Linked DNA regions of Homo sapiens. The protein of the gene in region 1 purifies or fractionates together with the protein of each later gene. This does not show direct contact. Each region holds a gene or a part of one and is shown in the gene's direction. Other genes may lie near its edges.

Region 1 (3,500 bases):
ACTGTAATAACTGAGTTTAGCATTTCAATGTTACTCTATGAACTTTCATTAAACTAGTAATTTTCCTTATTTTTAAATAGAACATATGTACTAGTTTATTAAATAATATTGAATATCTCCTTATTATTACTTTGAATATTGAATACCCCCTTATTGTATCAGTTGTGGGCAAACAATTACAAATTTATTTTCTGTTTTTCATCAGCTTTTTGCTGTGTCCGACAGAGAAACCTCATGCCTTACATGTCAAATAAAACCCAACTTAAATTAGGCAAACAAGCAAGTAATAACCGATTGATTATATTTTTTGGAAGTTTATTTAACTTACTATTCTTTAAAAAACGTTTTCTTTAGGCACTCGAAGACTCCAGCTTCCTGAAAAGAAGTGGCAGGGACAGTGGCTACGGTGACATCTGGTGTCCTGAACGTGGAGAATTTCTTGCTCCTCCAAGGCACCATAAGAGAGAAGATTCCTTTGAAAGCTTGGACTCTTTGGGCTCGAGGTCATTGACAAGCTGCTCCTCTGATATCACGTTGAGAGGGGGGCGTGAAGGTGTGTTGTGTTTTGGCTGTCAGTTTATTTGTTCACATATTAAGGGAGAACTGGGAACAGGAGAGAATAGAAAAATGGAGCAAAAACTAGGCAAAAATTTCACTTAGAAGTGGATTTTCATAGAGACTGGAGTATAATTGGGGGTTTTGTTATTTTTTTCTCCTTCATGATGGTGATAGTTTCATTTTTGAAAAATTTCATTTCTGGAAAGGACTGAGAGGTGACAGTTAATTGTGGCCTGTTTTATCAGTGATAATCTATCCTGGCTCTTCTCTCTCCAGATTCAGGCTTAATTTGTGTTCAAGAGTTCTATAAACTGATATATCTAAACATAGAAAGGAATATAAGATTCTGCAAAAAAAAAAAAAAATCTTCTAGTTTCTGAGTAACTTTCATCCTTGGCTTTTTTCAAAAGATTAAAAAAACTCTCTTAAGCAAAAAAAGAAAAATATTTTTACAATTATTTCTATAGATGAGAAGAAATGATTGCTATCTATCATGATAGAATATTATGTTAAACTTTGTAGATTGAGTAATATACCACCACCTAACATGCAGGTAGAAATCCTCTTTTGGTCCTTTCAGAGTCAGAGCTAACCCAGGACAGAGCAAGTGTGAAAGGAACATGTTAGAGACATTCTGTTGCGGGAAGGAACCTTCTTTCAAAATCCCAAGCTTATGGTCAGTTCAGTTATTTCAATGCACATCTTATTCCTGTGGCTACTGGGTATAGCGTCAGCAATTTCTGAGTGTACATCTCCAGCTATTCAGATTTGACTAGATTGAAACCACAAGTGAAGTTTTTTTTTTGAAATATTTCTGTGCTTCTATCGACATCAATGTGAAAACATTGAGTTCTGGCTGTGATTTGTGCTTAATTGTTAGGGATTTTACATTGCTTGTGTATTTGGAATATTACTTTTCTATTTCTAGATATTTTTCCTAGCATATCTATGACAAAAATGTCAAAAATCAGCAAACTTAAAATAATTGTACAGCGAACACACATGTATTCGCTGCCTAATTCCACCATGATGTTTTACTATGCATGCTTTATCTTATACTCATCTCTCTCTCCTCTCTCTCTCTTTCTCTTTCTCCCTCCCTCCTTTCTCTATTATAATTTAGTCATCTTATTTTTTGAGGCATTTCAGAATATATCACACTTGTCCTAAATACTTCAGTATGAACATCATTAACTAGAATTTATTCTTTGTTTTACTTCTGATGTGAAACTTATATAAATACAACATGCTATGAATTTGTTTTCCAAAAAACCAATCAACAATTTATTAAGCATGGTAACAAAAAACCTGAAGGCTTTATCTTTTAGAGTAGTAGTTTTTAAAAATAAAAAATGTGAAACGCTATTTCAGCATTAACCTTTATAATTACTGCCACACGTATTGGCTGTTTGCTGTCAAGGTGTGACATTTTCATAGCCCAGATGACGATTCCAATACGTTTAAGGAAATGAATCTGAGTATGTGATTCATCTGAGTGGTTAAAGCTGTAAAAGCAGAGGCTGAAATTCTGAACCCGCTGTATTTCTTTTCCCTTACTGAAGAACCTACTCCATGTAATGACAGAATTTATATCTAGTCAAGGAATAAAAGGGGAAGGGATAGAGGGCATGTGGGAATATGCAGGCTTCAGTCAGTTCAGATGCAGTGGCCCACCCAGCGGTGTGGAATCTAAGTCGTCTTCTCAGATCCTTGTTGGAATGGGCACCTGTCCATGTAACCAAAAGCAGAAGGCCACTGTCACATCCCTTTCTGATCTTGGAAATGGGGCTGCAGACCTTGTTTAAAGAGTGCGTAAGTGAAGTCTTGGAAATTACAACTAAGCGGGGAAAAAAAGCCTGGGATGGAGGCACCAGGCCGATAAAGCTCTTTTGTGATCAGTGTGTTAAAATTCTACTGCTACTCTCTAGATTGTAGTCCTAAATTGATGAGCACTATAATGTAGGGTAATATTTTTAGGATAACAGAATTGCAATGTCACATTCTCTAGTTTTACGTGAAAACTCATATCAAGAATGATACTTTGGGGGAAAAAATTCTCTGCAGGACACCGTACTGGGCTAAAAAATACTTTTTCTTAAAAGTTAGAAAGTAAAATAGTCTCTTTATGACTTTAAAATTCCACATGTATGGATTTCGGCAGGAGTAATTGATATACTTATTGGAAATGAGAAATAAATGTCTGATTTTTTAGAAGGTGGTAAAAAGAAAGCACCAGTTTATTGACTACTACTCCTCATGGTCACAGCTGCGTTTACTTTCCCTCTTTTGCCAAGACTCTACTCTCCTTTTACTCTGTCCCTGTCTCATAGCTGTATGTTAAGCGACTTCCTGTAGACTGTTCTCAGTGTTATTTACTGTAGCTTCCTGCCAGGCAGGAGGGAGGGGAAGAGACTGCATTTAACTCAGGTTAACCCTGCAGGTGCTCTACCTGCTGAGAGCTTGTAGCTGTCAGGCACTGTGCACAGCCAGGCCTGGAGAGAACCCTGGTGAGAAGCAAGTAACATTTCCAAACCTTTACAAGTGCACAGGAGGCAGGAAGAGAAGGGTGTGAAAGAGGGACAGCTTGGCTTGGATCTGTAGTGTTGTTCTCCCCCCTTTTCTTCCTTTGTCTTTAAAAGAGTAGATTCATTCTTCTTCTTTTAAGAAAGCAGATTACTATTTGTATCTATCTGACCTTGAGGAGTATCAAAGGGTGTTCTTTTGAATTTGTGTTTAAATGATTTTGAATCATAATACAGCGTTCCCAATATAATTTCCATGGCCACTCTGAAGAAACTGTGAGTTCTGTGCTCTCATTTGGGCATAAGACTTCAGATTCCTTTGGAACTTTAGAAGTCATCCAGTCCAGCCTCATATCTAATGTGTGATTCTGGTTTATAGAATCTATCCAGACCCTTTACAAGCTTGTTTTTTTTTTTCTT
Region 2 (3,540 bases), on another chromosome or scaffold:
TTTAAGAACATATCTCTGCCCATCTATTTATCAGAATCCTTTTGAGATGTAGTTTAAATCAAACAAAATGTTAATAAAAATAACAAGTATCATTCATCAAAGACTTCATATGTGCCAAGCAGTGTGTGCTTTGTGTAGATTATGTCATATAGTTCTCATAATCCACCTTCCGAGACAGATACTATTTATTTTTTGAGACAGAGTTTTACTCTTGTTGCCCAGGCTGGAGTGCAATGGTGCCATCTCGGCTCACCACAACCTCCGCCTCCCAGGTTCAAGCGATTCTCCTGCCTCAGCCTCCTGGGATTACAGGCATGCACCACCATGCCTGGCTAATTTTGTATTTTTAGTAGAGATGGGGTTTCACCATGTTGGTCAGACTGGTCTCAAACTCCTGACCTCTGGTGATATGCCTGCCTCAGCCTCCTAAAGTGCTGGGATTACAGGCATGAGCCACTGTGCCCAGCCGACAGATACTATTATTATTTCCATTCTACCGAGAAGGAGACTAAGGCTCTGATCATTTAAATAAGTTGCCTAAGGTGATGCAGTGATATAAGTAGCAGAGCTAGGAATTGAGCCTTGGTAACTTTAACTCTGGACCCCAAGTCCTTAGCTACTAAGCTTTACTGCATGGGGTTTAGTCAAATTAAGACTTTTGGAATATGAGTTACTTTTGAGATTAGCTTTGTGATATTTTTTGTGCTCATTTGTCCAACAAAGTCTATTTTATTTTCATCTTAATTAGGTTTTTGTATGAATATGCAAGAAGGCATCCTGATTACTCTGTCGTGCTGCTGCTGAGACTTGCCAAGACATATGAAACCACTCTAGAGAAGTGCTGTGCCGCTGCAGATCCTCATGAATGCTATGCCAAAGTGGTAGGTTTATTGTTGGAAAAAAATGTAGTTCTTTGACTGATGATTCCAATAATGAGAAAGAAAAATAATGCAAGAATGTAAAATGATATACAGTGCAATTTAGATCTTTTCTTGAGATGGTTTCAATTCTGGAATCTTAAACATGAAAGAAAAAGTAGCCTTAGAATGATTAACAAAATTTAGACTAGTTAGAATAGAAAGATCTGAATAGAGCAATCTCTAAAAAATTTTGATCTTTTTTTCTCTTTTTCACAATCCTGAGAACAAAAAAAAATTAAATTTAAATGTTAATTAGAAGATATTTAACTTAGATGTAAAGTGAGTTAACCTGATTCCAGGATTAATCAAGTACTAGAATTAGTATCTTATGGCAAATTATAGAACCTATCCCTTTAGAATATTTTCAAATCTTTTTGAGGATGTTTAGGAATAGTTTTACAAGAAATTAAGTTAGGAGAGGAAATCTGTTCTGGAGGATTTTTAGGGTTCCCACTAGCATATGTAATGGTTTCTGAACTATTCAGAATCAGAGAAAACTCATTTTTCCTGCTTTCAAGAAGCTACTGTATGCCAGGCACCATGCACAAACAATGACCAACGTAAAATCTCTCATTTTGGAGAGCCTGGAATCTAACTGGAAAGGTGAACTAATAATAATAATATGTACAATCATAGCCATCATTTATTAAACTTTTATTATATGCAAGGCACTGTTTAATTTCATTAGCTTACCTGGTTTACAGAGCAGCTCTATGAGATGAGTGCCATCTTTGCCCCTATTTTAGGGATAAGGATTCTGAAATGTGGAGATGGTAAGTAAAATTGCACAACTGAAGAATGAGTTACATGACTTGGCTCAAATACTGGTCATTGAACTCCAGAGCCTGAATATTCTTAACCACTTACATGATGCAAGCTCACCAAATAAATAGTTCGAATGTATTGTGACAGAGCGGCATTGATATTCATCTATTCATGTGGCTTTGAGTAGGAAGAAGAAAGGATATCATTCTGACCAGAGGGGTGAAAAACAACCTGCATCTGATCCTGAGGCATAATACTATTAACACAATTCTTTTATGTTTCAGTTCGATGAATTTAAACCTCTTGTGGAAGAGCCTCAGAATTTAATCAAACAAAATTGTGAGCTTTTTGAGCAGCTTGGAGAGTACAAATTCCAGAATGCGTAAGTAATTTTTATTGACTGATTTTTTTTATCAATTTGTAATTATTTAAGACTTAATATATGAGCCACCTAGCATAGAACTTTTAAGAATGAAAATACATTGCATATTTCTAATCACTCTTTGTCAAGAAAGATAGGAGAGGAGAGATAAAATAGTTGATGGGGTGGAGAGGTCTATATTTGAATGTAGTCTAAAAATTGTTCTCTTAAGATTGGAAGTATGTAGGCTGGGAGGGTAAATACCAAATCTTGGTATATCAGAACTGAGCATGTCCCTTGAAGGTTAAGAAATAGTTAATGGGCAAATAGAGCATGGCAATATTTTGTAGAGCAGCAAGTAGTAGGCCTTGAATAGATGTCGCTCAAAAAGTAATATGTAAGCTGAACACAAAAATGTAACAAATGAATTTAGATACATATTTGAATATTAAATTCAGGTTGTTTGGGAGATGCACCTAGTCTTTGATGGTTAAACCTTTCCCTCCATAGAAGAGACAGAGACAGAATGGCTTGCTGGACTAATGTCCCAATTCAATAGAGTCTTATCTATGAAGGTTAAAAACAAGAAGAGACATATTATACAGTAGATATTTATTGTGTGGCTCATACACATGGTGCTCTTCTGATTATGGATTTTAGAGATAATAACAGTGAACAAGACATAGTTTCTTTCCTCGAGTAGATTAAAGTCATACATTGACTTTTAATGGTGACTGGCATTCTTAATACATGATTATTATATATTAGGTACCATGTCAGATTAATTATAATACTTTACTACTTTTAATTTAACCCTTGAACTATCCCTATTGAGTCAGATATATTTCCTTCCATTTTCTACTTGTATCTTTCAAGTTTAGCATATGCTGATACATATGAAGCTCTCTCCAGGTTTTATTGAAAGAAGAAATTAATAAATTTATTAATGTCACTGAATTAGGCAACTCACTTTCCCAAGATTATGCAAGTGGTACAGGTGGAACTCAAAGCCAAGTTTAACTAGTTGTTCAGGAGAATGTTTTCTACCCTCCACTAACCCACTACTCTGCAGATGGAGATAATATGATGAATGGAACATAGCAACATCTTAGTTGATTCCGGCCAAGTGTTCTCTGTTTTATCTACTATGTTAGACAGTTTCTTGCCTTGCTGAAAACACATGACTTCTTTTTTTCAGGCTATTAGTTCGTTACACCAAGAAAGTACCCCAAGTGTCAACTCCAACTCTTGTAGAGGTCTCAAGAAACCTAGGAAAAGTGGGCAGCAAATGTTGTAAACATCCTGAAGCAAAAAGAATGCCCTGTGCAGAAGACTATGTGAGTCTTTAAAAAAATATAATAAATTAATAATGAAAAAATTTTACCTTTAGATATTGATAATGCTAGCTTTCATAAGCAGAAGGAAGTAATGTGTGTGTGTGCATGTTTGTGTGCATGTGTGTGTGCATGCACGTGTGTGTATGTGTGATATTGG
Region 3 (3,540 bases), on another chromosome or scaffold:
TTGCAAGCCATGCAGTCTCTGTTGCAACTATTCAACTCTGCCTTTAGAGTTTGAAAGCAGCCATAGACAGTATGTAAATGAATGAGAGTGGTTGTGTTCCAATAAAACTTCATATATGGATGCAGAATTTTGAATTTCATTTAATTTTCATGTGTCACAAAATATTCTTTTAAAGATTTCTTTTCAACTATTTGAAATTGTAAAAACTATACTTGGCTCATTGATACCTTATAAAAACGGGTGGAAGGCTTGGTTTAGCCTGTAGGCTATAGTTTGTTAACCCCTGCTCTTGAGTAGCACTGTCCTGTAGAACTTTCTGTGTTGATGAAAATGTTCTATTTCTGTGCTATCTAATATGAATGATAGGTATTAACCACATGTAGCTATTGAGCACTTGAAATGTGGCTGATATGACTGAGGACATACTATTTATTTAAATATAGAAGCTACCAAATTGGGTAGTACAGTTCTAGAGCTGTGTGTTTAAGCCAGTTCTATTGGAGCATATGCTGATATTTTCTGAAAAATGTCTCTCTCCTTTACAGCTTTCATGTTACAGACCCAGCCCCTTGCTCTACCTCTGGAGTCACAGCTGGATTAACTAAATTAACTACAAGAAAGGACAACTATAATGCAGAGAGAGAGTTTTTACAGGGTGCTACTATAACAGAGGCTTGCGATGGCAGTGATGATATTTTTGGGTTGAGTACTGATAGTCTGTCTCGTTTACGAAGCCCATCTGTTTTGGAAGTTAGAGAAAAGGGCTATGAACGATTAAAAGAAGAACTCGCAAAAGCTCAGAGGGTAAGAAAGAAGATATTTTATTCTTCCATATATTATATTAGAAATTAGTATTTCTCCATGGGGTGGGGCAACCTGCAGAAATGAAATCATGATGGTTGTACATTTATCCGTCACATATGCCCAGCCTCAGCTCCTGTTAGGCAGCATTTAGGAATCCGTGAAACTGGTTGGGTAGTAAAGAAGTTCCTCTAAGACTACTAACTGGAAAAATGTGGCTCTGTTAACTCTTCTGTGCCCCACTGCATTGCCTGCTCCCTGTCTCGTATTATCTGTAATGCAGATTGAGTGGGCTATATTCCACATGCAGGGTTTTTCCTTCTTACTACATGGCTGACTAAATGGTTATTTACTTGAAGTCACTCAGTCTAAGTCATTTTGTTTTGAGTTTAAGCTGAGTTTGAATATTTTCTGTATCTTACCTTGGAGAATTTTCTTGGTAAATTGTTGTGTTTCCCATTTGGTCATTTTAAAAGTTTCTGCTATTTATTTCCAAACTTGTGGCCATATCTTATTCTTTTTCTGAGTCTGCAGTTAAATTTCAGAGGAAAATTTATAGAATGAAATGCATACATCAGAAAACAGGAAAAGTCTCAAATGGACAATCTAAGCTCCCACTTTAAGAATCTGTAAAAAGAAGAGCAAAATAAAACCAGAGCAAGTAGAAGGAAGGAAATAATAAAGAGCAAAAATCAATGAAATTGATAACAGAAAAAATAGAGAAAATGAGTGAGACAAAATGTTGGTTCTTTAAGAAGATTAATAAAATTGCAAACCTCTAGCAAGACTGACAAAAAGAAGACAGATTTATCAGTAGCAGGAGTGAAATGCAGGATGTCACTGGAGACTCATATCAAAAGTATAATGGAATGATATGAAAAACTGCATATATAAACCTGACAACCTAGGTGAAATACCAATTCACATGTAGAAAATTGAGAAGGTAGGGCAAACATTTATAGGTGTAATATCCAACCTACCATGACATTTCACAAATGTATTCCCACTCTTTCCCTAGCATACTTGTCTCTCATGAGCGTAGTATATTCATTTTTTTAATCCCCAGTTCCTTCCCAAAGGAAAAGGATGTGGTGAGATGTGGTTGCATTTTGTTTCTGTCATCTGGCTCAGACTTTGTTGTCTTAATAGATAGTATTTTATTAAAATCACACATTATATAGAGGTAAAATTTTGAGTATATGTATCCATCTTTGAGAACACATGGTTATTGATCAGAACAGATTGCTAATTTCTTAGCTCACTTGAGAATTTCCTTTGAAATCTCTAATATGCTGTATTTAGAGATACTGTTTGGATAATTGAAATGGTGATGTGTAAACACATATGTGGTGACTTTTATGAAGAGTATAAGTTAGTATTAATATTTACTTAGATCTCAAGGCTTGAAAAGGACTCTTGAATATAAAAATACTTCCTGAATTGTGACAACTTGTGAATCAAACTATGTCAACAGCCATTTTCTTTAGTCTTATCTTAAGAGAGGCCATTTTCTATACTTTTTACTTACTTGGTTAACTGTGTCTTCCTATTTAATACGAGTTTCTTATAGATAGTGTACAGTTAGGTCTTGTTCTTTTGATCCTTTGTAATTATCTCTGTCTTTTAATTGGTGTTTAGACCATTTACATTTAATGGATAATGGTATAGTTTGGTTTAAATTTACCATCTTACTGTTTGTTTTCTGTTTGTCTCATTTGTTCCTTTTTCCCTTTTGTATCCTTTCTTTTGAATTAATTCTGTATTTTTAAAACAATTTCATCTTCCTGTGGCTTTTATCTTTGTTGCTTTAGCGTTTATAGTAGACATATTTAACTTATCACTCTCTACCTTCCGGTGATATATTACTTTACATCTGGTGTACAAACCTTACAAAAGTATACTTTTATTTTTCCCCTCCTAGTTTTTGTGCAATAATTGTTGTATGTTTCACTTCTTTGTGTGTTTAAACCCCACAAAACACTATTGTTTTGCATTAAACAGTATTATCTTTTAAAGAGACTTAAATAATAACAAAGAATCTTTACATAGATAAACATCAGAAATGTTAGCTACATGGGCATCTGTGTGTTCATTCCTTTTTTTTTTTTTTTTTTTTTTTTTACAAGTTTTACTTTTATTTTTGAATGATAGTTTAACGGGGCATACAATTCTAGGTTGATGGTTGTTTTTTTTTTTCTCAACAAACACTTTCATAATTTTACGTCTTTGTCTTCCGGCATCTATCATTGTTGATGAGAAGCCAGCTGTCAATGTAGTTGTCATTCCTTTGTAGATAATTGGTTTTCTTCCTCCTTCTGGTCACTTCTAAGATTTTTTTTTTTTAATTGATCATTCTTGGGTGTTTCTCGCAGAGGGGGATTTGGCAGGGTCATAGGACAATAGTGGAGGGAAGGTCAGCAGATAAACAAGTGAACAAAGGTCTCTGGTTTTCCTAGGCAGAGGACCCTGCGGCCTTCCGCAGTGTTTGTGTCCCTGGGTACTTGAGATTAGGGAGTGGTGATGACTCTTAACGAGCGTGCTGCCTTCAAGCATCTGTTTAACAAAGCACATCTTGCACCGCCCTTAATCCATTTAACCCTGAGTGGACACAGCACATGTTTCAGAGAGCACAGGGTTGGGGGTAAGGTCATAGATCAACAGCATCCCAAGGCAGAAGAATTTTTCTTAGTACAGAACAAAATGAAGTCTCCTATGTCTACTTCTTTCTACACAGACACA
Region 4 (2,621 bases), on another chromosome or scaffold:
AGCCCCATAATTTCCCTCCCTTGCCCATCCTGTGCCCCTTGCCCTGTTCATGGCTCCCCCCTCACTCAAAGATTGGTCTCTGATCCTGGTGTTCTGATTCTCTCTTCCCACAATCAGTCGGAAGATCATAATAAAGAATTTTGACATTCCCAAGTCAGTACGTCCAAATGACGAAGTCACTGCAGTGCTTGCAGTTCAAACAGAATTGAAAGAATGCATGGTGGTAAGTAGAGGACTGGGGGCGTGACTTCAAAAGATAATTCAACTCCTTGATTATAAACATAATTTAATCTCTCACTTTAATAATGTACAGTGTACTTAATGAAACATTCTCACTTATGTTATGCTACTTGAGACTCAGAACAACTGTGGGAGCTTGGGACAGATGACTTCTCATTTTCCAGATGAAGAAGTTCGAATCCAGAGAAGTCTAGGATAAATAAGAAGGAAAGGAAGAAGGAATAGGAAGTGAGAAAGAGGGAAAAAGAAAAAAGTGTAAGAGCTAGTAGAGAAGCAGTTAGAGTCCTTCCAAGGTCCTGAGCATGTTTAGTTTAGGATGGAGGGAGGGGAGTTCTCAGAAGAGAAAGCAGCAACTCCACACCATAGGTTGAGGTGGGTGGGCAGAAGAGGACATGCAGGATATGACTCCTCCTCTCCAGTAAGCACTGAGCGACTCTACTGTCCTCTTGCCTTCTTCTGCTCCTTTGCTCTGGGTCACCAGAAGTGGACTCTTGTTCCAGCCTCCCCACCCTGACAAGGAGCTCGTAATCATCTCCTCCTTTTCCCCACGTTCAGAAGTCCAATCTCTGAACAAGGTCAGAGGTTTTCAAATGGTAATGTGTCTAAAACTCACTCGGGGATCTTGTTAAAATTCAGAGTTTCATTCAGCAGGTCTGGGGAGAGATTAGAACTTCTGGATTTTAACAGACGCCCAAGGTACACCAAGGCTGTGCCCAAAGGATCACATTTTTGAGCAGCTTGGGATTAGAGCATTATCCCTCCTGTCTAGCTGCCAAGGGCCAGAAGTCAAATAGACTTATGCAGTTATTAATCCACAGTGACTCTTCCCTGGGACACTGGTTGTGTGTCCTTTTCCTAGTCATTGATCTCAGATGTCACAAGCATGCAAACTGCCCCCACTACCTTTGTTCTAGGGCCAAGACCCATGCATCTCCCATCTCCCCTACTCCCTCCCCAGACCCTTCATGAAGGACACCTTCTATCAGGCAGCACAAGTATTTCCTTACAACATAAGTTTCCTAATTCAAATGAGACTTAAGGACAATGATTACATGTAAAACAACATTGAGAACATGAAGATTGCTATTCAGTCAACTGCATTCTAGAAATATCCCCACACCTGTAAAGAAAAATTCCTGGTCAATGAGCAAAGAATATCACAGCTGCTTTGTCAAATTTTTCTATTTTCAGTCCAAGAATCTGAGACATGTACACTAATTTGGGGTAGGAGCAAGGCTGAATCATAATTTTTCAACTCTGTATTTTGTTTATCACAAACACAGGTGAGAATGAGAATAAGAACATGTACATAATGTGTACATAAAATTTTTGTGAAAATGGTGGTTTCTGGTGGTAATAGTTAATGGTAGTGGTAGGTATAATAAGATATGTTTGAATCAATAAAATTACATGTGACATAATTTTGTGCTTTTGTGATTAATAAAAGTATGCTTTTAAGAATCATGCTAGTACTCTAAAATAAAGCAATCTTTTCAAAACCCACCTAAGCACAACTAAAAGAATAAGAAATCTTTAGACTAACTGACTTTGCAAACTAGAAATAATTTACAGGAAAGGAAATTTTGTTAATTCTAGTCAACAAATTTTTATTTGTGGCTTCATTTTTCAAAGTATAACTATTTTTAAATTTTTATTAAAATATATTTATATAACTATAAAATTCTTACCATCTAATCCTCATTTTTTATCATTTATAATGTTTTCTGTAACTGAATTTTTGAAAAAGTGAGGTTTAGACTCATATTTATTTATTTTAGAATTAGAATAGAATATACCTACAATCGTATATTTGAATATAAAGATTGCATAATCCTTTAAAGCTGAAGGAAACTTGTGGCAAAAACAATGCTTAAACATTTTTGTGCTACAGGCCATTTCGTTGGTTTCATGAAGTTTATGAAACATTTATCAGAAAATTGCTTCTAAATGTATAAAGTGCATTGGATTACAGAGAGAAACTACCACATTGAGTAACAGTGACTAACTTGTAAAAAATAAATTTGTGATGCAGTAAGGTATGTGTTTCTTTATGCACACATTAGCTGGGAAAGCAATACATTTAAAATATAGAAGAGTTGAATTTTATTCTATGAACACATTATCTGTGTGATGGATGTTGTTACTTAGCTTGAAGAAGTACATTAAACTGCACTGGTCTTTGGCAACACGTCCCACGTGCCATGCTAGGCATGCAACGGATTCTGATCTTTTATTGTACAAGTGGTGTAAATTCTGATTCATGACGATATGTTGTTGCTAATGTAACAGAAAGGTAAACAAGGCCGGGCACAGTGGCTTGTGCCTGTAATCCCAGCACTTTGGGAGGCCAAAGTGGGCAGATCACCTGAGGTCAGGAGTTC

Evidence for each region. Proteins that work in one complex are often made in the same cells at the same time.
Region 2: the proteins of LMO7 (region 1) and ALB purify together in Homo sapiens (affinity purification with mass spectrometry, with the first as the bait; one large-scale study listed by BioGRID). This does not show direct contact.
Region 3: the proteins of LMO7 (region 1) and RAB3IP purify together in Homo sapiens (affinity purification with mass spectrometry, with the first as the bait; one large-scale study listed by BioGRID). This does not show direct contact.
Region 4: the proteins of LMO7 (region 1) and PIP purify together in Homo sapiens (co-immunoprecipitation; one large-scale study listed by IntAct). This does not show direct contact.

What each region holds. Positions count from the first base shown.
Region 1 is NC_000013.11:75,800,330-75,803,829, forward strand, and holds part of LMO7 (LIM domain only protein 7), read left to right. Parts: intron 1-354; coding exon 355-553; intron 554-3,500.
Region 2 is NC_000004.12:73,414,287-73,417,826, forward strand, and holds part of ALB (albumin preproprotein), read left to right. Parts: intron 1-748; coding exon 749-881; intron 882-1,969; coding exon 1,970-2,067; intron 2,068-3,244; coding exon 3,245-3,383; intron 3,384-3,540. UniProt on the Homo sapiens protein: Binds water, Ca(2+), Na(+), K(+), fatty acids, hormones, bilirubin and drugs. Its main function is the regulation of the colloidal osmotic pressure of blood. Major zinc transporter in plasma, typically binds about 80% of all plasma zinc.
Region 3 is NC_000012.12:69,755,860-69,759,399, forward strand, and holds part of RAB3IP (rab-3A-interacting protein isoform alpha 1), read left to right. Parts: intron 1-545; coding exon 546-804; intron 805-3,540. UniProt on the Homo sapiens protein: Guanine nucleotide exchange factor (GEF) which may activate RAB8A and RAB8B. Promotes the exchange of GDP to GTP, converting inactive GDP-bound Rab proteins into their active GTP-bound form.
Region 4 is NC_000007.14:143,135,077-143,137,697, forward strand, and holds part of PIP (prolactin-inducible protein precursor), read left to right. Parts: intron 1-117; coding exon 118-223; intron 224-2,621.